Homo sapiens: one gene and its partners. The protein of the gene in region 2 purifies or fractionates together with the protein of the main gene of each other region. This does not show direct contact. Each region holds a gene or a part of one and is shown on either strand. Other genes may lie near its edges.

Evidence for each region.
Region 1: the proteins of FGF1 (region 2) and SDC2 purify together in Homo sapiens (affinity purification with mass spectrometry; 2 studies listed by BioGRID and IntAct, with this or other methods). This does not show direct contact.
Region 3: the proteins of FGF1 (region 2) and KLHL7 purify together in Homo sapiens (affinity purification with mass spectrometry; one large-scale study listed by BioGRID and IntAct). This does not show direct contact.
Region 4: the proteins of FGF1 (region 2) and CD44 purify together in Homo sapiens (co-immunoprecipitation; one large-scale study listed by IntAct). This does not show direct contact.
Region 5: the proteins of FGF1 (region 2) and HMG20A purify together in Homo sapiens (affinity purification with mass spectrometry; 3 studies listed by BioGRID and IntAct, with this or other methods). This does not show direct contact.
Region 6: the proteins of FGF1 (region 2) and GTF2IRD1 purify together in Homo sapiens (affinity purification with mass spectrometry; one large-scale study listed by BioGRID and IntAct). This does not show direct contact.
Region 7: the proteins of FGF1 (region 2) and HSPG2 purify together in Homo sapiens (affinity purification with mass spectrometry; one large-scale study listed by BioGRID and IntAct). This does not show direct contact.

What each region holds. Positions count from the first base shown.
Region 1 is NC_000008.11:96,500,313-96,503,812, reverse strand, and holds part of SDC2 (syndecan-2 precursor), read right to left. Parts: intron 1-3,500. UniProt on the Homo sapiens protein: Cell surface proteoglycan which regulates dendritic arbor morphogenesis.
Region 2 is NC_000005.10:142,595,591-142,599,090, forward strand, and holds part of FGF1 (fibroblast growth factor 1 isoform 1 precursor), read right to left. Parts: intron 1-3,500. UniProt on the Homo sapiens protein: Plays an important role in the regulation of cell survival, cell division, angiogenesis, cell differentiation and cell migration. Functions as a potent mitogen in vitro. Acts as a ligand for FGFR1 and integrins.
Region 3 is NC_000007.14:23,168,285-23,171,784, reverse strand, and holds part of KLHL7 (kelch-like protein 7), read right to left. Parts: intron 1-3,500. UniProt on the Homo sapiens protein: Substrate-specific adapter of a BCR (BTB-CUL3-RBX1) E3 ubiquitin ligase complex. The BCR(KLHL7) complex acts by mediating ubiquitination and subsequent degradation of substrate proteins. Probably mediates 'Lys-48'-linked ubiquitination.
Region 4 is NC_000011.10:35,198,171-35,201,670, forward strand, and holds part of CD44 (CD44 antigen isoform 1 precursor), read left to right. Parts: coding exon 1-76; intron 77-2,475; coding exon of another isoform or gene 2,476-2,747; exon of another isoform or gene 2,748-2,911; coding exon 2,912-3,025; exon of another isoform or gene 3,026-3,497; coding exon of another isoform or gene 3,498-3,500. UniProt on the Homo sapiens protein: Cell-surface receptor that plays a role in cell-cell interactions, cell adhesion and migration, helping them to sense and respond to changes in the tissue microenvironment.
Region 5 is NC_000015.10:77,469,388-77,472,887, reverse strand, and holds part of HMG20A (high mobility group protein 20A), read right to left. Parts: intron 1,979-3,500; coding exon 1,846-1,978; intron 1,106-1,845; coding exon 1,074-1,105; intron 1-1,073. UniProt on the Homo sapiens protein: Plays a role in neuronal differentiation as chromatin-associated protein. Acts as inhibitor of HMG20B. Overcomes the repressive effects of the neuronal silencer REST and induces the activation of neuronal-specific genes.
Region 6 is NC_000007.14:74,558,406-74,561,905, reverse strand, and holds part of GTF2IRD1 (general transcription factor II-I repeat domain-containing protein 1), read right to left. Parts: intron 3,046-3,500; coding exon 2,862-3,045; intron 2,280-2,861; coding exon 2,251-2,279; intron 1-2,250. UniProt on the Homo sapiens protein: May be a transcription regulator involved in cell-cycle progression and skeletal muscle differentiation. May repress GTF2I transcriptional functions, by preventing its nuclear residency, or by inhibiting its transcriptional activation.
Region 7 is NC_000001.11:21,850,311-21,853,810, reverse strand, and holds part of HSPG2 (basement membrane-specific heparan sulfate proteoglycan core protein isoform b precursor), read left to right. Parts: intron 1-740; coding exon 741-892; intron 893-978; coding exon 979-1,111; intron 1,112-1,577; coding exon 1,578-1,723; intron 1,724-1,884; coding exon 1,885-2,020; intron 2,021-2,113; coding exon 2,114-2,265; intron 2,266-3,312; coding exon 3,313-3,448; intron 3,449-3,500. UniProt on the Homo sapiens protein: Integral component of basement membranes. Component of the glomerular basement membrane (GBM), responsible for the fixed negative electrostatic membrane charge, and which provides a barrier which is both size- and charge-selective.

The DNA of each region.
Region 1 (3,500 bases), on a different chromosome or scaffold from region 2:
ATAACATATCTTTCTCTGAAGGATCAGCAGAACTTACTTAAACAACAATCTAGCTCTGGTGCCATTTTTTGATTGAAATTTTTGTTGAGATAACTATAGACTCACACACAGTGTAAGAAATAATACAAAGATCTCTTGTGCCCCTTCCTAGTTTCCGCCAATGGTAACATTTATAAAACTACAGTAAACATCACAACAATGATATTGATATTGATACAATCTACCAATCTTATTCTGATTTTCCTAGTTTTACCTGTATTCATGCTGTGTATGTTTGTGTATGTGTATCTACACAGTTCTATGACATGTATGGATTTGTATATATACATTATCTTTATACACACACACACCTTTTAAAATATAACCAAGGTCTCACTATACATAGGTTTATATCTAACTTTTTGTGTACTATAGTTTCTAAGTTATAAATACCCTTCAAATAAATCTTTAATGGCCACATGATATTCAGTGTCTAAATTAGAATCTTATTTAACAATTACTCTATTATTGTACACTTGGGTTGTTTCCATTTTTTTAACTATTATAAGTAAGAGACTTCAACAAAGACATTAAATACTATTTACCTGGTAATGATTTCCTTTGGACAGATTTGTGGAGGTAAAATTACTGGGAAAGATGAGCTTTTCACATCTTAACACGGATTTGTCCTGTCCCTGTAAGGAACCTTTCATCAGCCAGAAATAATAAATGGCATATTTTCTCACATCATCCACTTTTAGAGAAAAGCTGACTACAAACATATTCCCAATATCTCAGCGTAGAACTAGTCTACCCCAAGACAAGAAGAAAGCCCCTGTTATGAAAAAGTAGGCCTTAGCATGCATATGCTGAGCCACCCTCTGGGCTAGAGCTTATCAGATGAGCCCAACTAATGTGTGTGCCAAGCCCTTATTCTTCAGAGAAGCAGAAAGCCAGGAATTATAACTAGCATGTGACACAACGCATGGACATTCCCTTATGCTAAAAAGTCCCTACTTATTGTGTCTCACATAATCCTAAAAACTTATTTTAGGATATTCAGTTTTACAGATGAGAAAACTGAGCCCAGAAGGTTAAAAAACTTGCCCAAGGTTACATAATAAGTGTATCCAAACCCAGGCAACACTACCATAGTCTGCTCATTTAGATTCTTGCTTGTGGTCTGCACAGTACTCAGACCAGGCTCAAGTGCTCTAGAGAGGGACCAAACGGAAGGCACCAGTTAAAAGCCCCACTCTGGAAATGGAGATCCAGGCCAGAAACCATATGAGGAGACTAAAACACTTTATGAGATTTATAGTTTAAAAAGACCCCCAGTATATCAAGTCATGTAGTCTTCTATCTAGAATGAAAGTTATTTTTACCACGCAGCTGTTCTTTATGTTACACTGGCTTGTATCAGAAAATATATAAAAAAATACTAGTGATATGGTTTGGCTGTGTGTTCACCCAAATCTCACCTTGAACTGTAATAATCCCCATATTTCAAGGGCGGGGCCAGGTGGAGATAACTGAAACATGGGGGCGGTTTCCCCTATACTTTTCTTGTGGTAGTAAGTCTCACAAGATCTGGTGGTTTCATAAATGGGAGTTCCCCTGTACAAGCTCTCTTGCCTGCCACCATGTAGGACGTGCCTTTGCTTCTCCTTTGCCTTCCACCATGATTGTGAGGTCTCCCCAGCCATGTGGAACTGTGAGTCCATCAAACATCTTTCCTTTATAAATTACCTAGTCTTGGGTATGTCTTTATTAGCAGAGTGAGAACAGACTAATACAAATAGACATTAGATCACGAATACGCAGGACAATGTATACCACTCCTAGTAAACAATGAACACTCAGTTCAAGGTAACAGGTTACCATGAGCTATTAGAAATTACTTGCCTTTCTGTAAGGTGAATAAATTCCATGTTTCAATAATAAAATTAGAAGTATTTGACAGGGGATTAATAATTACTTATTAAGTTAATCTTCACATTTCTCCTACCACACCCTAAAGTGCAGAAAAAGTAAATATTAAGGAGAGAGAGTTTTTCTCGTTCAACTCCATCATTTTAGAGATGAGAAAACTGAGGTCTCACAGGGATTAAGACAGTTAATTACATGTGTATAAAACCTTGCTTTTGCCTTGACTTAAAATGTTGTATATTTAGTCTACTGTATTTATATTTAATAACAAATTACACATAAATACATACTTAACTCAGCTGGTTGCAGTGGCTCACGTCTGCAATCCCAGCACTTTGGGAGGCTGAGGCAGGCGGATCAGTTGAGGTCAAGAGTTCAAGACCAGCCTGGCCAACATGGTGAAATCCCGTCTCTACTAAAAATACAAAAAAAGAATAGCCAGGCGTGGTGGTGTGCACTGTAATCCCAGCTACTCGGGAGGTTGAGGCAGGAGATTCACTTGAACGGGGGGAGGAGGTTGCAGTGAGCCTCATTTATGCCACTGCACTCCAGCCTGGGCGACGGAGTGAGACTCTGTCTCAAAAAAAAAAAAAAAAAAAAAAAAAAAAAGAAATACGTATTTAACTTTTCCCTTAAAAAAAATTTTCCTTTAATAATTGCGTATCTTGTCCCGTGTGTCATTCTTATACCATGAGACTAAATTCTATTAATTGCACACACTCCTTAAACATCACGGTTACTTGTATTTAATATACCTGTGTAATCATAAAAAAAAACACCAAAATGCTTTGTAGAGAGCATACTTACTGAGTCTTTGTGACATTTTTCACAAAATAGACTGAATAGTAGAGAAAAAAACTGTGAAAACATGTCTTTAATAACATTTTTCCATTTTTCCAAGACTATGCATTGGCTATCACGCCACCAGCTGCATACTCATTGGCTTCACTCTGCTGATGTGAAATGCAAATGGAAAATCTCCAAAGATTTCAAGGCTTCTCTCTTCTCCCACTCCTACCAATTCTTTGAGATACTTGAGAAAAACAGACATTCACAATTCTATTTCAACAGTGTCCTCTCCCATTCAGAGGCATTCACCCCTCCATCCTTGTTGCTAAAGCTAATGCTGCCTAGAAACAGACTTATCAAAATGCAGTTGAGATTTTTAATAGTAAGACCTAAAGCCCAATGGCTAAAAGAAGAAATTTAATGCATTTCCACTCTTTTTTTTTTTTTTTTTTTTGAGATGGAGTCTCACTCTGTCGCCCAGGCTGCAGTGCCATGGCATGATCTCGGCTCATTGCAACCTCCGTCTCCTGTGTTCAAGCAATTCTCCTGCCTCAGCCTCCCAAGTAGCTGGGATTATAGGTGCCCATCACCACGCCCGGCTAATTTTTATATTTTTAGTAGAGACGGGGTTTCACCATGTTGGCCAGGCTGGTCTCGAATTCCTGACCTCAGGTGATTGGCCCACCTCGGCCTCCCAAAGTGCTGGGATTACAGGCATGAGATATCGCGCCAGGCCACATTTCCACACTTAAAAAATAAAAATAATCCCTTTTCTGCCCCCAGATCCCCAAAATATACTCACT
Region 2 (3,500 bases):
TGCCTCAGTCTCCTTTTCAGGAAAATTGGGGTCATGGTGGAACTTATTTCACAGGGTAGTCATAAGGACTTAGAACAGCACCGGGCACTAAAGAGCTGTCAATATGCATTTGCTATTATTGTAAACTTCCTTTCCATTTAAAATCCATTGTAAAGTAATTAAGATGCTACTGATAAGAGCACTTCTAAGAGTCCTCAGGACTCTAGAATCTCCCACTGGGGACATTCTGCTCGACTGTAAGTACCTTGAGGGCAGGGCTGGATCTTTCATCTCTGTAGTGGCCTGGCACACAGGCCTGACCATGGAAAAACATTCCAAATAGGTAAAAACCAGACTGTGATGTAGTGGGTTGTTGTTGTTGCTGTTGTTTTAACTTGAAGGCTAGACTTAAAGAATAAACAAAAAGCTGCTAAAATGCCTTTTATCCTGGTGATTTTCACTAACGTCAGGATTTTACCTGAGTATTGTTATGAAGATATGCTTGTGCAAAATTTATCCTAAGCATGAAACATATCCTAGAATGTAGATTTTTTAAAATGAAAATAGCTTTATTTTTTGCTACTTATAAAAAGAATCTTATAAATAGATGCTACTTGTGGTCAGGCACAGTGGCTCATGCCTGTAATCACAACACTTTGGGAGGCTGAGGCAGGAGGATTGCTTGAGCCCAGGAGTTTGAGGCCAGTCTGGGCAACATAGCAAGACCCATTCTCTACAATTTTTTTTTTAATTAGCTAGGTGCCATGGTGTGTGCCTGTAATCACAACACTTTGGGAGGCTGAGGCAGGAGGATTGCTTGAGCCCAGGAATTTGAGGCCAGTCTGGGCAACATAGCAAGACCCATTCTCTACAATTTTTTTTTTTTTAATTAGCTAGGTGCCATGGTGTGTGCCTGTAATTACAACACTTTGGGAGGCTGAGGCAGGAGGATTGCTTGAGCCCAGGAATTTGAGGCCAGTCTGGGCAACATAGCAAGACCCATTCTCTACAATTTTTTTTTTTTAATTAGCTAGGTGCCATGGTGTGTGCCTGTCCTCCTAGCTACTTAGGAGGCTGAGGTAGGAGGATTGCTCGACCCCAGGAGTTTGAGGCTGTAGTGAGCTATGATTGTACCACTGCACTCTAGTCTGGGTGACAGAGCAAGAACCTGTCTCTAAAGAGTAATAAAAATGCTACTTATAAGAAGAATTGTACTTTTAAAAATATACCTTTACTTTGTAAAAAGAAAAAACTATCCCAAAACCCACCACCCAGATATAGGCAACTGTTAATCACTGATAAACATCCTGCCTTACATCTCTTTATGTACATACAGACTAGATAAGGCTATATGGATATAGACTTATGATATCATCAAAATGTCATGTTTTATTTGATGTTTTAAAAATGAACAACAAACCTATGAAAACATTCAATACTGCTAACGAGAAAAATGCAAATTAAAAATTATTTATCATATGTTAGCTATCCTATGTGCAAAGATAAAAAAAAATTTGTGCAAAGATAAAAAACCATTTGCAAGACTTAGAATGTGGGAACTAGGCACTGCCATGCACAGTTGGCGAGAAAAATTAGTGGAAACTTTCTGAAGACAATTTAGCAATATGTATCAAAATTTACAAGATGTATTACCTTTGACTCAGCAATTTCACTTCTAGGAATCTACCCCTAGGAGATGGTTGAGTAAGTGTACAACTGTATTTTTGAGGATGGTCTCTGAACCAATGGTTATAGGGGCAAGCGATTAGGAGTAACCTATATGTCCATGGAAAGGTGATTGGTTAAGTGGGTAAAAGAATATCCGTACAGTAGAACCCAGTGCAGCTGTACATTTATTAAGTTGAAAATCAGCCACAACGTATTAAAGAGTGCAGTTACTTGAAAAAAATCCAGCAACCACTATTTTGCTTACTTGTAGTCAATCTGTTGGTGGAAGGGGAACTCAGTTTTTGAACTTTCTATTCGTCAAGATCTTAGAATATATTTATTACATTTGGGTCTAAAACAGGTATATTAAAACACTTATGCTGGAACTGAGACATCTGACTTTGCTTTGCCTTTTTCAAGTCGTGTGACCCCTGCAGTCTCTCTTCACCCACAGTGGTTGGTGATTCCCTGTCTGGCGGTTTCCAATTATATTGTTCATTGTTCTCTATGTGTGAGCATGTTTGTTTCTTTAGATTATAAACCCTAGTGAGGAAGGAGATGGAATCTTGTTGGTCTTCTCTCCATCCCCCAGACACAGAGCCTTGCAAATAATAGGTGCTCACCAGCTAAGTAATGCATTTAATTTGATTCTTGAGATAATATAAAGCAGTCAGTAAAGTCAGCCTTTCTTAGTAAGGAACTGTGTAACAGGAAGTATCCTGCTTCTTATTCATTCATAATCTAGTGAAATGACAACAGGGTGAGACACTTTAGATCATATTGGAACAAGATGAGATATAAATATAATATTTTATTGGATGACTCTGCTGCCTCTAGAGGAACTTGGTGCAGACATTCGTGTTTGATGCATGTTGTTGGGGGTAGAAGGAGGTAGACAGCTTGGACCTATGTGGGTTGCCCACTCCCTTGTAGGGAGGACTCATGCCTGACACCTCATAGTGGGCATCAGGCCTGTGTTCTGTGACGAAGGTGAGGATGGCCACATTCCCCACCTGATGTCTCTATTATACTGGAGGAGTTGACACACACAAAATAGCTGAGTCACAGGCTGAGTCAGCAGGCCAGATCAGCGGTGCTCCGTCCCTCCACCAGGATTTGTTAGCACTCATTATGCACTTGGTACAATGCTGAAGACATGTGGCTTAACTATTGATTCATGTCTATTGTTTAAATTGTCTTCTTTTTTATATTTGGCATGTTTCCCCTCCCACCCTAAATTACATAGGTGACATATACTTACTGTAAAAAAAAAATTGGAAAATACAGGAAGTTATTCACATATTATAAAATCACCCATTCTCCACCCCCAGAGATAACTATATCAGTATTTTGATATATAGCCTTTCAAACTTAAAAAAAATATACATATCCTTTCCACACACACAAGTTTGAATCAGGATGGATTAGTGCCTAAATTTTATGAAGAGCATGAAGCAGAGCTTTGAGATATCTTAGAACTTCTCTTTATCAATGGGGAAAATGCAAACATTCTTAGGCGTAATATACTAAGATCATATTTCAGGTGAATTGTAGTGATGGCCACGGCTATGGTGGGAGAAGGGGGTGCCTGGAGCCTATCGGAAATTAGATTCTGGGAGTTCTCCCTCAATATTTTTATATAAGTGAAAGCAGGTTACAATAAACGTCAAAATTTATTTAAAGAGGGAAAAGCCATAAAACTGTGGCATAACCTAAGACACAGTGAGGGTGAGGGGCTTCTAAGCTGATGACTTGTCTTACAGCCACCACTGGTCTGTGACGTGCCAGCCACTCTGATGGGCGCATTCTGTGTGTTGCACCACTGAACCCATGTACGCTCTGTGTGAGGCGGT
Region 3 (3,500 bases), on a different chromosome or scaffold from region 2:
TGAGCTGAGATCACGCCACTGCACTGCAGCCTGGGCGACAGAGGCAGACGCCGTCTCAAAAAACAAAAAACAATTTGATGAATTCAACTTTATAAAACATAATTAAGGCACAATGATTAACTCTGAAGTATTAACAATTCTTTTGTCTTACATTTATGTATTGTTTTAAAAATGGTTTGACAGTCACCACTCTCATTTTCAAAGTTCTCTGTTAAGGTGAGGTGGACAGCATGGCTCCTGTTTTTAGGAAAAACACACACGCTCATCCAGGTGAAGTGACCGGCATACAGCTCGGAAGTGGGACAGCAGTAAAAACTAGGTCTTCACTGCCCTGCACGTAGTGAGATTTATAGACTCAGCTATCATCATGCATTAAAACACAGTATTTGACTTGGAAAAATTCCATTTACATACCACTTTCTTCTCCAAATATAATGTTAATGATATAAAAAGACAGCATGTCTTTATGTATATCTAAATCTCCTGAAGGTTTAGAAAAAACTTTCACAAATTCCCCTTCCTCCTATAATTCACATGCAGAGTACATACTAGGTCCCCGCTATCTGCAATCTGAAGTTTAATGTTTAGAAGCGTTTTTTCGCCTGTAATCCCAGCACTTTGGGAGGCCAAGGTGGGCAGATCACAAGGTCAAGAGATGGAGGCCATCCTGGCCAACATGGTGAAACCCCGTCTCTACTGAAAATACAAAAATTAGCCCGTGTGGTGGCGTGCGCCTGTAATCCCAGCTACTCAGGAGGCTGAGGCAGGAGAATCGCTTGAACCTGGGAGGCAGAAGTTGCAGTGAGCTGAGATCGTGCCACTGCATTCCAGCATGGTGACAGAGTGAGACTCCGTCTCACAAAAAAAAAAAAAAAAAGTCATTTCTTAAAATTCTGACCGCTCAAACTGTGTCACATTGTTTCCATAGACATAATTTCTTTCTTTCTTCAGTTACTTTATTATGAGCTTCTGCTCCTCTCCATCTTTTTTAAAACTGATTTTAAAAATGTGATACATAATACATGTACATATTTTTATGGTACCTGTGATATTTTGACACATGTATACAATGTGTAATGATCAAGTCAGAGTAACTGGGATATCCAGCACCTGAAACATTTATCTTTCCTTTTGTTTCTTTTTGGGCTAGGGAAGGAACCCAGGCCTCCCATGTTGCTGCTGAGGAATATCTTTTCTTTGTGTTGGGAACATTCCAATTCTTCTCTAGCTATTTTGAAATATACAATAAATTATTGTTAACTATAGTCTCCCTACTGTACTACTGAATATTAGAACTTATCCTATCTAACTGTATTTCTGTACTTGTTAACCAACCTCTGATAACCATCATTCTACTCTCTACCTCCATGAGATCAACATTTTTAGCTCCCACATGAGTGACAACATGTGTTATTTGTGTTTCTATGGTCCATAGGCTTAGTTTTTCAGCTTCCAATTAAACACATTCTAATTATCAAACACTTAAAATGTCAAAATTGGGAAGAAATTCTTATTAAAAAAAACTTGGCTGGCTAGATAACTTTTTGTTTTTATTTTTGTTTTTGTTTTTGAGACAGAGTTTCGCTCTTGTTGCCCTGGCTGCAGTGCAATGGCACGATCTCAGCTCACTACAACCTCCACCTCCCGGGTTCAAATGATTCTCCTGCCTCAGCCTCCTGAATAGCTGGGATTACAGGCACGCGCCACCACGCCCGGCTAATTTTTTTTGGTATTTTTAGACGAGACAGAGTTTCACCATGTTGGTCAGGCTGGTCTCGAACTCCTGACCTTAGACGATCCACCAGCCTCGGCCTCCCAAAGTGCTGGGATTACAGGTATGAACCACCACACCTGGACTAGGTAACATTTTTAAAAGGAAATAATATAACATTTATTTTGAGAGTTGGATAATTATATTCACACTAGCTTTTCATTTGTGAAAATTTAAGGGCATTGAAGGGAACATAGAGAATTCAAATTTAAGCTCAATATATATAAAATGAAAGAAATGCTAGGTCTTGTAAGTTTTTAAATATTCCTGAAACTGAATATTCACCTAGTTTTAAAAAATACAGAAGCTGCAGAACTCCTTTATATTTTTACTTTGAACAAAAAAGTAAGTAAAAAATCAATATTAATTTACATTGATAGTGCCTGAATAAAGATGTAAAAATTTAGAAACCTAGAGTTTTTATGGTTATGGCTTCTCTTTTAAGAGATTTTTTAGAAATAAAAAATAATTAGCAGAATGAATCAGTTTTCCAACTAGTATGCTGTAACACTTTTTGAGCCTAGGGTTTATGGGAAGTAAGGTAGAGGTTCACATAAAAGGGAGCAAAGTTGGTAAACATCTTTAGCAAAAGACAAATTTCAAGACAACTTGCTTTTCTATTATTTGCACTGGAAAGAAGTTATTGATTATGCTTCCTTAAATCTTTTAAAAATATGTGGGAATCATAGATAAATGCACATAATTAATCATATTTTATAATTAAGCTCTTATTTTTTTATTTTTTATTTTTTTTTGAGATGGAGTCTTGCTCTGTCACCCAGGCCGGAGTGCTGTGGCACAATCTTGGCTCACTGCAACCTCCGCCTCCCAGGTTCAAGCAATTTTCCTGCTTCAGCCTCCCCAGTAGTGGATTACAGGCACGCGCCACAACACCCAGCTAGTTTTTGTATTTTTAGTAGAGACGGGATTTTGCCATGTTGGCCAGGCTGATCTCATACTCCTGACCTCAAGTGATCTGCCTGCCTCAGCCTCCCAAAGTGCTGGAATTATAGGCATGAGCCACCATGCCTGGCATCTTATTTCTTAATTTTAAAAAAAGCAGTAGCTGGAGTTGAAGACTTCCATGTTTTGTAGTTTGGCAATATTTCCTAAATATAAAACTTTAAGCACGAGAGTTTTGATGCAACTCTGGCATAGCATTTTAGTGAACGTATTCACCCAGTAACTTGTTCTAGTAAGGGAAGAACGATGGGCAATCCAGCCATATGATCAAGTGACTTTTCTTATCAAAGCTCTTTGGATGTTTCCATAAAAGGTACGACTAGGGTATCATCTGTTTTATGTCCTCATCAGCTTTAATGTCACTACTCACAACCCGTGCCCTCATGCCCTCTCCATTATTCAATGATTAGCACATTTCCTTTGGCTACATTGAATGTGTTCCATCATTAACTACAAGGTCAGAAAAACTGGCTAACCAGTTATTTCTTTAGCATTTTACCTTTTTGACACACTTTGCCTTTTTAAAAGCAGTTGATTTAAGAATAATTTTATTTAATAAACATGAATCTAAATGTACTTAGGAAGTTTACACCTAAAAAGAACTAGGGAGGCATGATTTATTAATGCCATGAGCCAATATCTAATATTTCTACTTAAGGATAAATTTATTGCTGGTCATAAACTCCCCCCTCCTCCTCTACATTTCCTGACCGCTCAAACAAAAACATTTTATGAGTTGACGAATCAATCAGATGTGTCTCATTCA
Region 4 (3,500 bases), on a different chromosome or scaffold from region 2:
GAAGATGAAAGAGACAGACACCTCAGTTTTTCTGGATCAGGCATTGATGATGATGAAGATTTTATCTCCAGCACCAGTAAGAATAATCAATTACAGTACAGCCATTTATGCAAGGCTTATTGATTAATCTGAGTGATACCAAATTGTATCTCTCTTGAGAAGTAGTTAATGTGAAAAATGGGTGAACCTATGATCATACCTTAGTTATATCTTGATGAGATTATGGAAGAAGAAATAGAATGTTTTGAGAAGTGGGGAAAATATCTCACAAAATTTCTCTTGTCTCATGTTCTTCCTGTTTTATTTATCTATGGGATCTACTGCTACAGATTGTCTTTGAATGATCAGGCTTTATCAGAGAATGACATTAAAACAGTACAAAAAATGTACATTGTGTACTTACTGTGCTAGGTGCTGGAAACACGAAGATGAAAAGAGCCAGAGCCTTTGCTTTTCAGAAGCTCATGGTCTGTTGGAGCAATAGACTTGAAGAATGTGATGAGGAGGGTATTAATTAAAAGTTGTAGGCCAGGCGTGGTGGCTCACACCTGTAATCCCAGCACCCTGGGAGGCCGAGGCGGGCAGATGACGAGGTCAGGAGATCGAGACCATCCTGGCTAACACAGTGAAACCCCATCTCTACTAAAAAATACAAAAAATTAACCAGGCGTAGTGGCGGGTGCCTGTAGTCCTAGCTATTCGGGAGGCTGAGGCAGGAGAATGGTGTGAACCCAGGAGGAGATCGCGCCACTGCACTCCAGCACTCTAACCTGGGTGACAGAGCCAGACTCCATCTCAAAAAAAAAAAAAAAAAGTTGTGGAAGTTCCTAAATTGAAGGCCCTAAAGGCTTAAATGATGGGAGCTAGAACTCAAGAATTATCTTAGTTAATCAAAGCCCAGCTGAGGTCAAAGGAACAAATCCAGAGTTTTAACAAATGAGCTGGACACCAATATAGCAGAAAGACCTTGAAGGGAAGGGCAAATGTCAGGTTAGCTTTAGCAAGACATTGCCACTTATTAAAAGCAAATAATGAAACCACTATTGGTACATAATAGTATCCAAATTTTTGACAATTATAAAACTTTTTGAGAACAAAGAGATGGAAATTGAGCTTTAAAGATATCCTTAAAAAGTTAAAAACATGCAAAGGTTGGTCTAATATTCTGCCAGATTACTGAGTTTTCCACACATACCTGTAATGACTTAAGATTTTGCTGAACAGAGCTGAGAATCCTGAACCTGACTCCATCACAGTTCTGCTTTTCCTTAGAAAAAAGGCTTTTGGGGTGCTGTGTGAGCTCTCCCAATTCACTGAAGTTCTATCCATTCCATTAAAATCTGAGAATTTCATCCTCAAATGGACAGAGAAGAAAGGGTCCAGAAAAAAAAATAGCTTAGGCCTTGAAGGCATCTGAGTATATAACATTGATATGACAAATACTCAAAAGGAACTAGAATTTTCTATCTAAACTTTTAAGTGATTTTTTTTTTAGACCCGACACCCCTCCAGAGCTTAATCTATGGAATAAGAAAATTCCTTTTGGTAACTTCAGAACAAAAACCAAATAATCAAAAACACTGGAGTTTTACATTATACTGTCTCCTGTGTTCAGCATGTGGCCCAGCTTTGCAGATGGGCCCATCAGTAAATACGTGGTCTTGATACTGAAGAAATTAAATTCCCTTGGGTGGTAACCCAAACAGATCTACCTGTAAATGAATTGTATGGTCAGGCTTCAGGGAAAAATTTCCCATGGTGTTGTTTTTTTTTTTTTTTTTTTTTTTTTTTAATTTTTTAAATCTCTATGGCATATTTTTCCAATTTCTGCTTTTCTTTTTTTTTCTTTTCTGCTTAGCACCTATGGACATAATTCAACATGATGCCCTCTTTCTTCTGGAGGGGTGTGATAACTGCTTGATAATAAGCACTTTTTCAGGCCTATTGAGAATGTGGTTAATGATTCTAAACTTGATTTTTCATAACTTGTAAAATAGAGCTGACAGTATTATAGTTCTGAAAACAGTTTTGCGTTATTTGGGTATCAAAATAAAGTTTGAAACAATTAGGATGGATTTGCAAATAACCTTTCACAAAACATGTTGACTCAGATTTTGTCATGATCCTTCTGTTAGGTGCATCTCTTATTCCAGCCCTAACAGATTGGGTGACAATATCAGGGTGCTGGTGGATGTACGCCTCTTTCTTTCCAGTGTGCTGCTATGATGGTGGCTGGTTACCTGTGGTGTCTTATTTTCTTTCACTGGCTATGAATGGCTTGCTCATGACATATTTTGTATTTGATGAGAATACCATAGTGTTTGATAAATATTCAGAAATGTATCGCTAAAACATATGGCTATTCTAGGTATTCTTTTTCAGAATCATCTATAGGAAAGCTCTAGCTGCTCAGGCATTCCTTTCCCCACTGAAATTACTAACAACATAAAGTGATTATCATGGTATAACTTTCAGTTATCTGCCTCTTCACCCGGAGGATCTACAAACAGCACACAGTGACTAAGTCCCTGGGCTTTCAAGTGCAGAGGGATACTACAGACTGCATGGATGGGCAAAATGGCGCCTTTGGTTATCCTCGGTGGAGGGCTGGTGTTTTCAAAGCTGTCCTTCCTACTGCTGCAGCTTCTTTGACTGTTTTATCTGGAAGATCTCATGTTCTGAACCCCAAGGTATTCTATGACAGAATGCAAAGGACACTGAGATGCTTACCAATATGGCTGAATTAAGCTGAAGTCACCCTCCGCTTTCCCTCCATTTCCATGCAGCCATCTATACAACCTGGTATAGATGATTCATTGCATAGCCTACAGAAGCAAGACTATGTGCGGGACAAGTGGCGAAGGCTCAAGAAATAACATTTTTCTAATTGCTTCAATCATCGTTATCACAGTTTCAACCACACCACGGGCTTTTGACCACACAAAACAGAACCAGGACTGGACCCAGTGGAACCCAAGCCATTCAAATCCGGAAGTGCTACTTCAGACAACCACAAGGATGACTGGTAATGGGTTCTGCATATTTAATGAAAGATTTTTTTCCCCTCAAAGCCCATGATGCTGCAAAGGTCAATCATCGAGGCACAGTGGGAAATTTAGTTAATATCTGATCAAGAAATTCTTAGTGGACTTTTATGAGGATACTTAATTCCATTTAGGAGTCATTTATCAATTATACCATGTGGGCACAGGATTTTTTATGTTGCTTCATGATAAAAATGAATATGTTTGAATGGTTTGTGGTTCTGCCTTTGACAAACTGATCATAGTGGAATAATAAGGGAACATGAAGAAATTCCAAGCCCATTGATTTTCTCTTGAGACCAATTAGGTAAAGTCACTCAAAATTTTTGAGAGTGGATGCTCAGAGGTAACACTTTGGCATAGAATTGTTAAATAGCATGCACTTTAATGGAAGAATAGAATCATTAAAGATTGGTTGATAACAAGTCACAGTGTATTTAACCATCATCACAGCAG
Region 5 (3,500 bases), on a different chromosome or scaffold from region 2:
ATGTCCACAAAGACATTACAACCAAAGAGTGTGAGCCCTTGAATTACCTCAAAACCCCTAGGTCAGATCAGCTAAGCACATAACACAAGTATAGAGAGCCATGAGGGTTAAAGGAAGTTAGAGGAAACAAGAAAAGTTTGAAGGAGAAAACAGAATTTGAAACAACACACACACCTAAATCCCATACACACACAGAAACACAGGCCTAAATCCTAACAATGGGGCTGAACCAAGTGGGAGGAAAGAAGCCAGTACACAAACATGTGCTAGTGAAGTGAGGGAATAGGAAAGGAGGTGTGAGAACTGAGATACTGGGCCGGGCGTGGTGGCTCACGCCTGTAATCCCAGCATTTTGGGAGGCCAAGGCGGGTGGATCATGAGGTCAGGAGATCGAGACCATCCTGGCTCATATGATGAAACCCTGTCTCTACTAAAAATACAGAAAATTAGCCGGGTATGATGGCACGAGCCTGTAGTCCCAGCTACTCGGGAGGCTGAGGCAGGAGAATTGCTTGAACCCGGGAGGCGGAGGTTGCAGTGGGCTGAGATTGTGCCACTGCACTCCAGCCTGGGCGACAGAGTGAGACTCTATCTCAAAAAAACAAAAAACAAAACAAAACAAAAAACAAACCTGAGATACTGTCGCTTGTGCTCTATCGACATTGTAGTTGAACAGTTCGCTTTAAGCAAATGCTGGATTCTTTAAATAACAACTTTTCTGAGAGTCAGATTTAAGTATTTGGTGATGATAAACTATGGTCATGTTATAGCTTTCAGCTAGCCCTCATTTCTATACTTCATTCCAAATTCCAGCCATCTTTGGCATTTAAAGCCAATAAAATTCTCAGATCACAGGAAAGGATTGAGGTTAGGGGCTGTAGTTCAATGACAGACACACAACGTAAGTGTCTGCCATATGCTAAGAACCCCCAAGCTAAAGTATCTCATTTAATCTGAATTACGAGATAGGAAATACTTTGCCATTCATTAAAAAAAAAAAAATCCAATAGCATTTCAAAAAGCAACATTATTATAAATACATATATATGATATGTAGACAGATGGCTAATTACCTCATGATCATGAGTGGCCTGCCGGGCTGCATCTAAAAATATAAAAGAATAAGAGAACATTACATTTAAAAAGAAAGCAATAACAAAACCCAAGTATACGACTCTGCCAAACTATAAAACCTGCTTGTATATGTAGATTCTCATAACATATGATATTTTTCCTTAAGGCTTTATTAATCGGTCAGCCAACAAAAGTAAGGGAACCCCATGCCTACAGAATTCATAATTAGGCATAAGAGAAACAGCAGACACAGTTCTTAACTTTAGGGAGAAAAGGGTGGAAGAGTGGACAGAAGACACAAACCAAAGACTACTTATACAACATCTATAATTTTAGCAGGCTAGATGCCCAAGTATAGAGAAGATGCAATGGCTAAGGAAAAATAGGCTAGTTGTGGATGGTGCTTCAAAAATGACACATGAAAGGCTTAGAAGTGTTAAAGGGAAGTTACTGATATAATTTTGTAGATAGGCTTGCTTACAGGCAGAGAAATGCCTAAACTGGGAATCAGGAAAAGAAGGGCAGGCAACTAACAGGGGTCTCGGAGGACAAGTCAAAATCATTGATAATAGACACGGAAACCCAGTTGAAATTTCTAAATGAGAGCAATGTGATTTTAATAAAATTTCAAGATAATGCTTGTAAGTGAATACTGGATAGTGGAGAAAAAACAGAAACACATCTTTTATAGTTACCACTCTTAACAGTTGGCTTTATGACACTCCATCACCCACAACAAACTACAAATACATTTGGTTCTGGTTTTGATACCTTGCCTATGAGATTTGCCTTTCTGACGGTCCTGGGTTTTCCTACTGAAGACCTTGTAGGCCTCTGTTTTCTGATACTGTTCCAGTTCCTTCATGTAACGCTCCTTATCTCTGTCTGCTTCATCAAGGTAGCGCTAGGAAAGAAATACAGAATTATTTTCAAGAAAATGAGATCCTATTTAAATAAAATTAAATTACCTATTTGAAGAAAACAGGACAATTAGAACATGGGAAGAAAAGAATATAGGGAATATGCCTTAAAAAAGAATCAGAAAAACAAGAGTTGTATGAATAGAATAAAATATAACCTCTCAATTATAAAAGTAAATAGGTCATTATGAGTTTTTAGAATATTTATTGCCTTTTCTAACCTAATGAAGACAAGTTCTATTGAGATCATTCTTATAAAAAATTCATGAAGATGATTAGAGTTATTCTTCTAACTCTATAGATAGAACTCTATATGGCCACTAGAGTCATCCTCATGAGATGTGCACACCACATAGGCACACTTAGTCTTCCCAAGGGAAGGAACAGAATATTACTTTGTTTTGCTGTCTCCAGCCCATTTTGAGGGGATGATGTCATACATCAATTGGCCCTTTAAGAGCCAGGAGGTTGGAGCAATGAAGCTGGGAGACACAAAGAACATAAAAATAATGACCTCATCCTATGGACCTAAAAATGGACTACTCTGAGAGAACCTATATCTACATGCTTTGATTGCTTTGTGCTATTAATTATTTAAACAAAGTTCATTGATCTACCAGGATTATTTTGTTTAATGCTTTGCCCTTTTCATTCATCAAAATGAAGTATAAGAAAGTATAAAAATACTGCTTCTAAATGAACAGAAAACACACTCAGAAATTATGTTAAACACTTTGTCCCGCGTAAGAGCCAGATGTAGGGGATACTCAACTGGCCAAATCTGGTACAATTTAAGCACCAAAATAATTAAGTACAGTAATAAATTATAAACTAGTAGAAAAAACTTCATACTATTATTAGTATGATTTATAACAGACACAATACCAATGATTTGTTACCATACAAATACAATAAATGGGTGTAGAGGCTGAGCGTGGTGGCTCACGCACGTAATCCCAACATTTTGGGAGACCGAGGTGGGTGGATCACTTGAGGTCAGGAGTTCAAGACCACACTGGTCAACATGCTGAAACCCCATCTCTACTAAAAATACAAAAATTAGCTGGGTGTGATGGTGCACGCCTGTAGTCCCAGCTACTTGGGAAGCTGAGGCTAGAGAATCGCTTGAACCTGGGAGGTGGAGGTTGCAATGAGCCGAGAGTGTGCCACCGCACTCCAGTTTGGGCGACAGAGCAAGATTCCATCTCAAAAAACAAACAAACAAACAAACAAACAAATAAATAAATGGGGGTAGGGGGTCGGGCATGGTGGCTCATATCTGTAATCACAGGATGTTGGGAGGCCAAGGCAAGAGGAGGACTGCTTGAGCCCAGATGTTTGAGTCCAGCCTAGGCAACAAAGTGAGATCCCATCTCTACAAAACATAAAATAATTAGCCAGTTTTGGTGGTGTGTGCTACTTAGGAGGCTAAGGTGGGAGGGGTGCTTGAGACCAGGAGGTCAAGGTTGCAGTAAGCCAAGATCTTGCTTAGATTAGAATGCTGAA
Region 6 (3,500 bases), on a different chromosome or scaffold from region 2:
ACTCACACCGAGCCTCAGTCTCCCCCTCTGTAAGGTGGGCTCTAGCGTCAACCTCCTAGCTATGAAGACTAAATGAGATGCCTCCTCTGTCTGCACTCTGCTGTAACCCTAGTTCCTCTAGAATACCACCTTGTCCCAGCAGGACCTCCCAAAATATGTGTGAAAGGCACCCGCATAAAGCACCAGTGCAGGGCCAGAAACCCAGTGACCTCTCAGCCGGGTGTCCACTGGAGCCACACTCACTGCACTGTGCTGCTGCAGCTTCCACTCTCTCCACCTTTCCAACATCATCTGACCACTCTGCCCCTCCGAGAGCTCCGGAAACACACTTCTGGCATCCAGTGACCCCCCAACCCCTGCCGTTCACCCCGCCAAACCCACCCTCCTCTCTGCCTCTCAAAGTCCCATCTTCCCCTGAGGCCCAAGCAGGGCCATCCTTACTCCAGGAAACCCTCTCCAACTACCCCTCACCCTCCTGATCCCCCTTCTGGGGGTTCCCGTGGCCTGTCAGCAGCCGCCACATCACTGTACCCTAAGTTCTTTTTTTTTTTTTTTTTTTGAGACAATCTAGTCCCGTCGCCCAAGGTGGAGTGCAGTCGCGCGATCTCGGCTCACTGCAACCTCTGCCTCCCGGGTTCAAGTGATTCTCCTGCCTCAGCCTCCCAAGTAGCTGGGATTACAGGTGTGCGCCACCACACCTGGCTAATTTTGGGATTTTAAATAGACATGGGGTTTCACCATGTTGGTCAGGCTGATCTCGAACTCCTGACCTCAAGTGATCCTCCTGCCTTGGCTTCCCAAAGTGCTGGGATTACAGGTGTGAGCCACCGTGCCTGGCCCGCCCTGGAGGCTCTGGCCAGCCCTTAGTGCTTGCCAAGTGGCATGTCGCCCCGCAGGGACAGCCCCTGCAAATCTGGGTTTGGGATCACCCTGCAGGGACAGCCCCTGCAAATCTGGGTTTGGGAGGCCAGGACACAGTCCATGGTGGAGACAGAAGTGGATGGGTGCCTTAAAAAGGGTCAGGAGGTCGGGTGTGGTGGCTCATGCCTGTAATCCCAGCACTTTGGGAGGCTGAGGCAGGAGGATCACTTGAGGCCAGGAGTTTGAGACCAGCCTAGCCAATATGGTGAAACCCAGCTCTACTAAAAACACAAAAATTAGCCGGGCATGGTGGTGCCCACCTATAATCCCAGCTACTTGGTAGGCTGAGGCAGAATAGCTTGAACCTGGGAGGTGGAGTTTGCAGTGAGCAGAGATAGTGCCATTGCATTCCAGCCTGGGCAACAAAGTGAGACTTGGTCTGTCTCTGTCTCTCTCTCTCTCTATATAATATTTTTTATTATATATATAATATTTTTAATTATATATAATATTTTAATTATATAAATATTTTTAATTATATATAATATTTTTATTATATATATTTTTTATTATGTATATATTTTATTATATATATAAAATATTTTTTTAAAAAGGGTCAGGAGAGGCACTGCACTGTTTAAGGCAGGGTAGGCGCCACCCACATCTTACCAACATGCTTGTGGTCCCCATGCAGACACCCCTCCTTCTGCGGTTAGGAACCCACTCACCTCCAACCTCGCCTATTCACTGAGGTCAACCAGAGCCCCTTTATCAGGAGGAGCAGGTGCACTGACTCGGCCTGGCCCCTCCCTCCTGAACCCAGACTGGGTAAAACTTAGAAGTCACTGACGCCACCACCCCTTTCTCTGTCCCAGGATCTGGGGCCACATTCAAGCTTAGTCTTCCTCCATCTACCTGGGGCAGGAGCCCAGGTAAGGTGGCTAAACAGAAGGGCAGAGGCCTAGGCCGGGCGCAGTGGCTCACGCCTGTAATCCCAACGCTTTGGGAGGCCGAGGTGGGTGGATCACTTGAGGTCAGGAGTTTGAGACCAGCCCTGGCCAACATGGTGAAACCCCGTCTCTACCAAAAATACAAAAAATAGCCAGGTATGGTGACAATTGCCTGTAATCCCAGCTACTCAGGAGTCTGAGGCAGGAGAATTGCTTGAATCCAGGAGGTGGAGGTTGCAGTGAACCGAGATGAAGCCACTGCACTCCAGCCTGGGTGACAGAGAAGGACTCTGCCTCAGAAAAAAAAAAAAGAAAGGCAGGGGCCTGGCTTCTGTTCCCAGACCCCAGAACCTGTGCCCCACAGCAGGCTTAGCTCCAGTCCCCAGCACCACGATCGGGCCCTATTCCCAGTGCCCCCTCCACAGCCAGTGCCTCTTACCAGGCTTTGGGATGAGTCCTTGGAAAGGCCTAGAAGAGAAACAGAGGCAGGGGTGTCATGGGGAGGGCCTGGGGGATGAGGAAGACACCCCTGGGATTCAGTGGCCTCGGTCTCCCCTGGGAGCACCCCAGACCTACAGCAGCAGAATCTGCATTTTAACAAGCTGCCCTGGGGCTCTGTGTGTGCGGGACACTGAGACAATGTGGCAGGGTGCTGGCATTGGCAGTGTCACTCTGCAGGACGCAGACCTGGGCCTTGTGCAGGCTTTGCCCTGGCTGGCCCCGGGACCTTGGGCAAATCCCTCTGATGGGGGCTGAATACCTTTCCCGGGGGCTGGGGGTGCAGTGAGCGGGTGTTGCTGAACAGGTTGAAGATGCCCTCAAAGGCTGCCCTTGCCATGGGGGGGTGACCAGTCCCACTTCTGAAGGGCTCCCTTCACTTGGGCTGGCCTGCAGTCCCTCTCCAACCACCCCCAGGACCCAGGATGGTGCCAGGAGAGCCACCTTGTCCAGGGGGGAGGGCAGGACCTAGGGAAAGGCTAAGGATTCGCAGGTGCAAGCTCCCATCTGAGCTAGTCCTGCCTCTTCACCCTCACCCTTCCCACTGAGTACCTGGTGACTGTGAACTTGATCTTGTCAGCCACAGCAAGAATCCTCTCCAGGTTCTGGGAGCCGAAGGTACAGGGCTTTCGGAACGGGATTCCTGGGGGCAGCCCCTCGATGATCACGGAGCCGGGGTTACTCTTGATCCGCTTGTAGGGGACCTGGACCGGGTACTTGATGCCCAAGGCTTCCCCTGTGGGCGAGAGGCAGGGTCCTGCCCGTCAGGAGTGAGAGGCAGCGTGGGGTGTGTGTACATGGGATTGCGGGGATGTGATGGAAAGACATGCGTGCAGGAGAGTGAATGGTACGAGAAAGCTCTTATGTAGTGTAGCACTGTGGAAAGGTATAGGCATTACAATCTGAGCTGTTTGATCAGAACATAAAAAAAAGGCCAGCATGGTGGCTTATGCCCGTAATCCCAGCATTTTGGGGAACCAAGGCAGGAGGATCTCTTAAGTCTAAGAGTTCGAGATCAGCCTGGGCAACACAGCAAGACCCTGTCTTTACTAAAAATTTCTAAAAACTAGTTGGGCATGGTAGTGCCCAGTGGGGTGTAGTTCCAGCCACTTGGGAGGCTGAGGCAGGAGGATTGCTTGAGCCCAGGAGTTTGAGGCTGTAGTGAACCATGATCACGCCACTGTACTCCAG
Region 7 (3,500 bases), on a different chromosome or scaffold from region 2:
GTGGTTTTTTTATTATTTTATTTTATTTTATTTTATTTTATTTTATTTTATTTTATTTTTTTGAGAGAGAGTCTCGCTCTGTCACCCAGGCTGGAGTGCAGTGGCGCGTGATCTCGGCTCACTGCAAGCTCCGCCTTCCGGGTTCACACCATTCTCCTGCCTCAGCCTTCTGAGTAGCTAGGACTACAGGCACACCCGCCACCAGGCCGGCTAATTTTTTGTATTTTTTTTAGTAGAGACGGGGTTTCACCGTGTTAGCCAGGATGGTCTCGATCTCCTGACCTCGTGATCCGACCGTCTCAGCCTCCCAAAGTGCTGGGATTATAGGCATGAGCCACCGCGCCTGGCCAGTCATGGTGTGGTTTAAATGAGACAGTGTCTATGGAAAGTACTTGTGAGCACACGGAAGACGTCCTGTAGAAGGGAGGTGTCTCACTGTCATCCGCATCCTTGGGCGCAGCCTGGGTAGTAAAGCTTGCTGGTTCCCTATGGGCCAGAGGAGCTCATCATCAAGAAGTCATGGGTGGGTCAATGGGCCTCCAGCTTGTGGTTAGAGGCTGGGGAGGGAAGAAGCCATATTCGGCTGGCCATGTGGAGGCAGAAGGGTGTGGCCCTAGTCCCAGAAAGGCCACCTGTCGGCCGTCCCCACTAGGGCCTGGTCACAGCCCAGAGCCTTCTGCCCCAGGGCTACAGGTTACAGCCCAAGAGTTCAGGCCTCTGAGCAGCCGCTCTGTGTCCAGTGCCCGGCAGCACCCGGCCCATCCGCATCGAGCCCTCCTCCTCACACGTGGCGGAAGGGCAGACCCTGGATCTGAACTGCGTGGTGCCCGGGCAGGCCCACGCCCAGGTCACGTGGCACAAGCGTGGGGGCAGCCTCCCTGCCCGGCACCAGGTATGGCAGCCCCCCGGGACCACCTTGCTGGAGGGGCTGGATGGGACTGTTCCAGCCCCCTCCCAACCCACCCCATTTGCACACAGACCCACGGCTCGCTGCTGCGGCTGCACCAGGTGACCCCGGCCGACTCAGGCGAGTATGTGTGCCATGTGGTGGGCACCTCCGGCCCCCTAGAGGCCTCAGTCCTGGTCACCATCGAAGCCTCTGTCATCCCTGGTGAGTGACTCCCAGTGACATGGAAAGCTGGAGGAGGCAGAGAGGCCTCCGGGGTGGTGAGATCCAAGGGACCCCTCTTGCTGACAGGGCAGAAGGCCCACACCGGAGCTGGCTGCAGGGCCCTGCCCAGGCCGACTCCACCTGTCAGAGTAACCACCGCCTTCCCGTCACACTTTGCTTTGGCCACATGACTCCTCAGGCGTCCCCTCCCACCTCCTCTTCCTCTCTCCAACTCATCTCTGCCCTCATCTCTCTCACTTCCTCACTCCCCTCTGCAAGGCGTGGCCCATGCCCTGGTCCTCCCATCAGGGTTGCTGAGCTGAGGGCATCAAGTCCAGGCCCCCAGATGCCTGAAAAGCTGGATCTGGCCTTGAAACCCTGGGCTGAGCTAGCTGCAGGGTGGGCAACCCCTGCCCTCTCATCTCAGGAGCATCTACAACTCTCACTCCCATCCCCACTGCTGCAGGACCCATCCCACCTGTCAGGATCGAGTCTTCATCCTCCACAGTGGCCGAGGGCCAGACCCTGGATCTGAGCTGCGTGGTGGCAGGGCAGGCCCACGCCCAGGTCACATGGTACAAGCGTGGGGGCAGCCTCCCTGCCCGGCACCAGGTACAGGGCACCAAGAATGTGGGACGGGGCCATGGACAGTGGGTTGCAGGATCCTGGCCCCTAGGCTGAGGGGCTGGCACTTCCTAGATCGGGGGGACAGCGGTGGGGCATTTGCTGGCCTCCGGGAAGCCCCCCTCACACCTCTGCCCACGGCTGCCCAGGTTCGTGGCTCCCGCCTGTACATCTTCCAGGCCTCACCTGCCGATGCGGGACAGTACGTCTGCCGGGCCAGCAACGGCATGGAGGCCTCCATCACGGTCACAGTAACTGGGACCCAGGGGGCCAACTTAGCCTACCGTGAGTGGGGCCACCAGGCTGGGCTGGGATGCAGAGAACAGGCTGGAGTGGCTTCAGAGAACAGGAGTGACCGGTGACCATCTTATCCCTCAGCTGCCGGCAGCACCCAGCCCATCCGCATCGAGCCCTCCTCCTCGCAAGTGGCGGAAGGGCAGACCCTGGATCTGAACTGCGTGGTGCCCGGGCAGTCCCATGCCCAGGTCACGTGGCACAAGCGTGGGGGCAGCCTCCCTGTCCGGCACCAGGTATGGGACTGGAGGACAGACAGGCCAAGAAGAGGAAGCGGGTCCCTGGGTGGCGGAGGTTATTGGGGGAGGGCTAGAGGCTCCCCTGAGATCAGGAAGCCCTGGACCCCATTGCACAGATGTATAGTGCAGTGGTTAGAAACCAGAATCTAGGACTGACTAACCTGGGTGTGAATTCTGGCTCCACCACTTAGCTTGTGACCTCGGACAAGTTACTTAACCTCTCTGTGCTATAGTTTCAGGGCCTATAAAATGGTAACAATGGTACGTACCAGCCGGGCACGGTGGCTTACGCCTGTAATCCCAGCACTTTGGGAGGCCGAGGTGGGCGAATCGCCTGAGGTCGGGAGTTCGAGACCAGCCTGGCCAGTATGGTGAAACCCCATCTCTATTAAAAATATAAAAATTAGCCGGGCATAGTGGCAGGCGCCTGTAATCCCAGCTACTCGGGAAGCTGAGGCAGGAGAATCGCTTGAACCCAGGAGGCGGAGGCTGCAGTGAGCCAAGATCACGCCATTGCACTCCAGCCTGGGCAACAGAGCGAGACTCAGTCTCAAAAAAAAAAAAAAAAGTACCTCACAGAATTATCTTAAAGATTAAAATATATGCAAAATCCTCAGAGCTTAGGCTCACAGAAAGTACTCTAAGCTGTTAATATTTTACTATAATGCCATTAGCTATTGTTGTTACCATATTTTGTAGAATTTAGGATACCACTGATTGCGAGATCCGCTATGATTTTATGTACCTCTAAGAAAAAGCTTCTATTTGTAAGGTTATTCATTGTAGATGCATCTTGATTTTGGAGACATCGAAATGTGTGTCTAGAATTGATGGGATGTGGTGTGAGTGTGTACCCAGCTCACTGGGGCTCCTCTGGTCTACCACCCCGCTGCTGGACAAGAGTCCCCCTTCCCCATGTGAAGGACAGGGAAACTGATCCAGAGCTGATGGCCAGGCCTTGGGGGTCAGAGTGAGGCAGGGTTGCAGGTTATAGGAACAGGGGTCTCCTGAGGGCTCCCTCTGACTCACCCCCATTCTGGCCAGACCCACGGCTCCCTGCTGAGACTCTACCAAGCGTCCCCCGCCGACTCGGGCGAGTACGTGTGCCGAGTGTTGGGCAGCTCCGTGCCTCTAGAGGCCTCTGTCCTGGTCACCATTGAGCCTGCGGGCTCAGTGCCTGGTGAGTAGCTCTCAGGGAGGGCAGGGCTGGGGACCCAGGGTGGGAGGCCCCC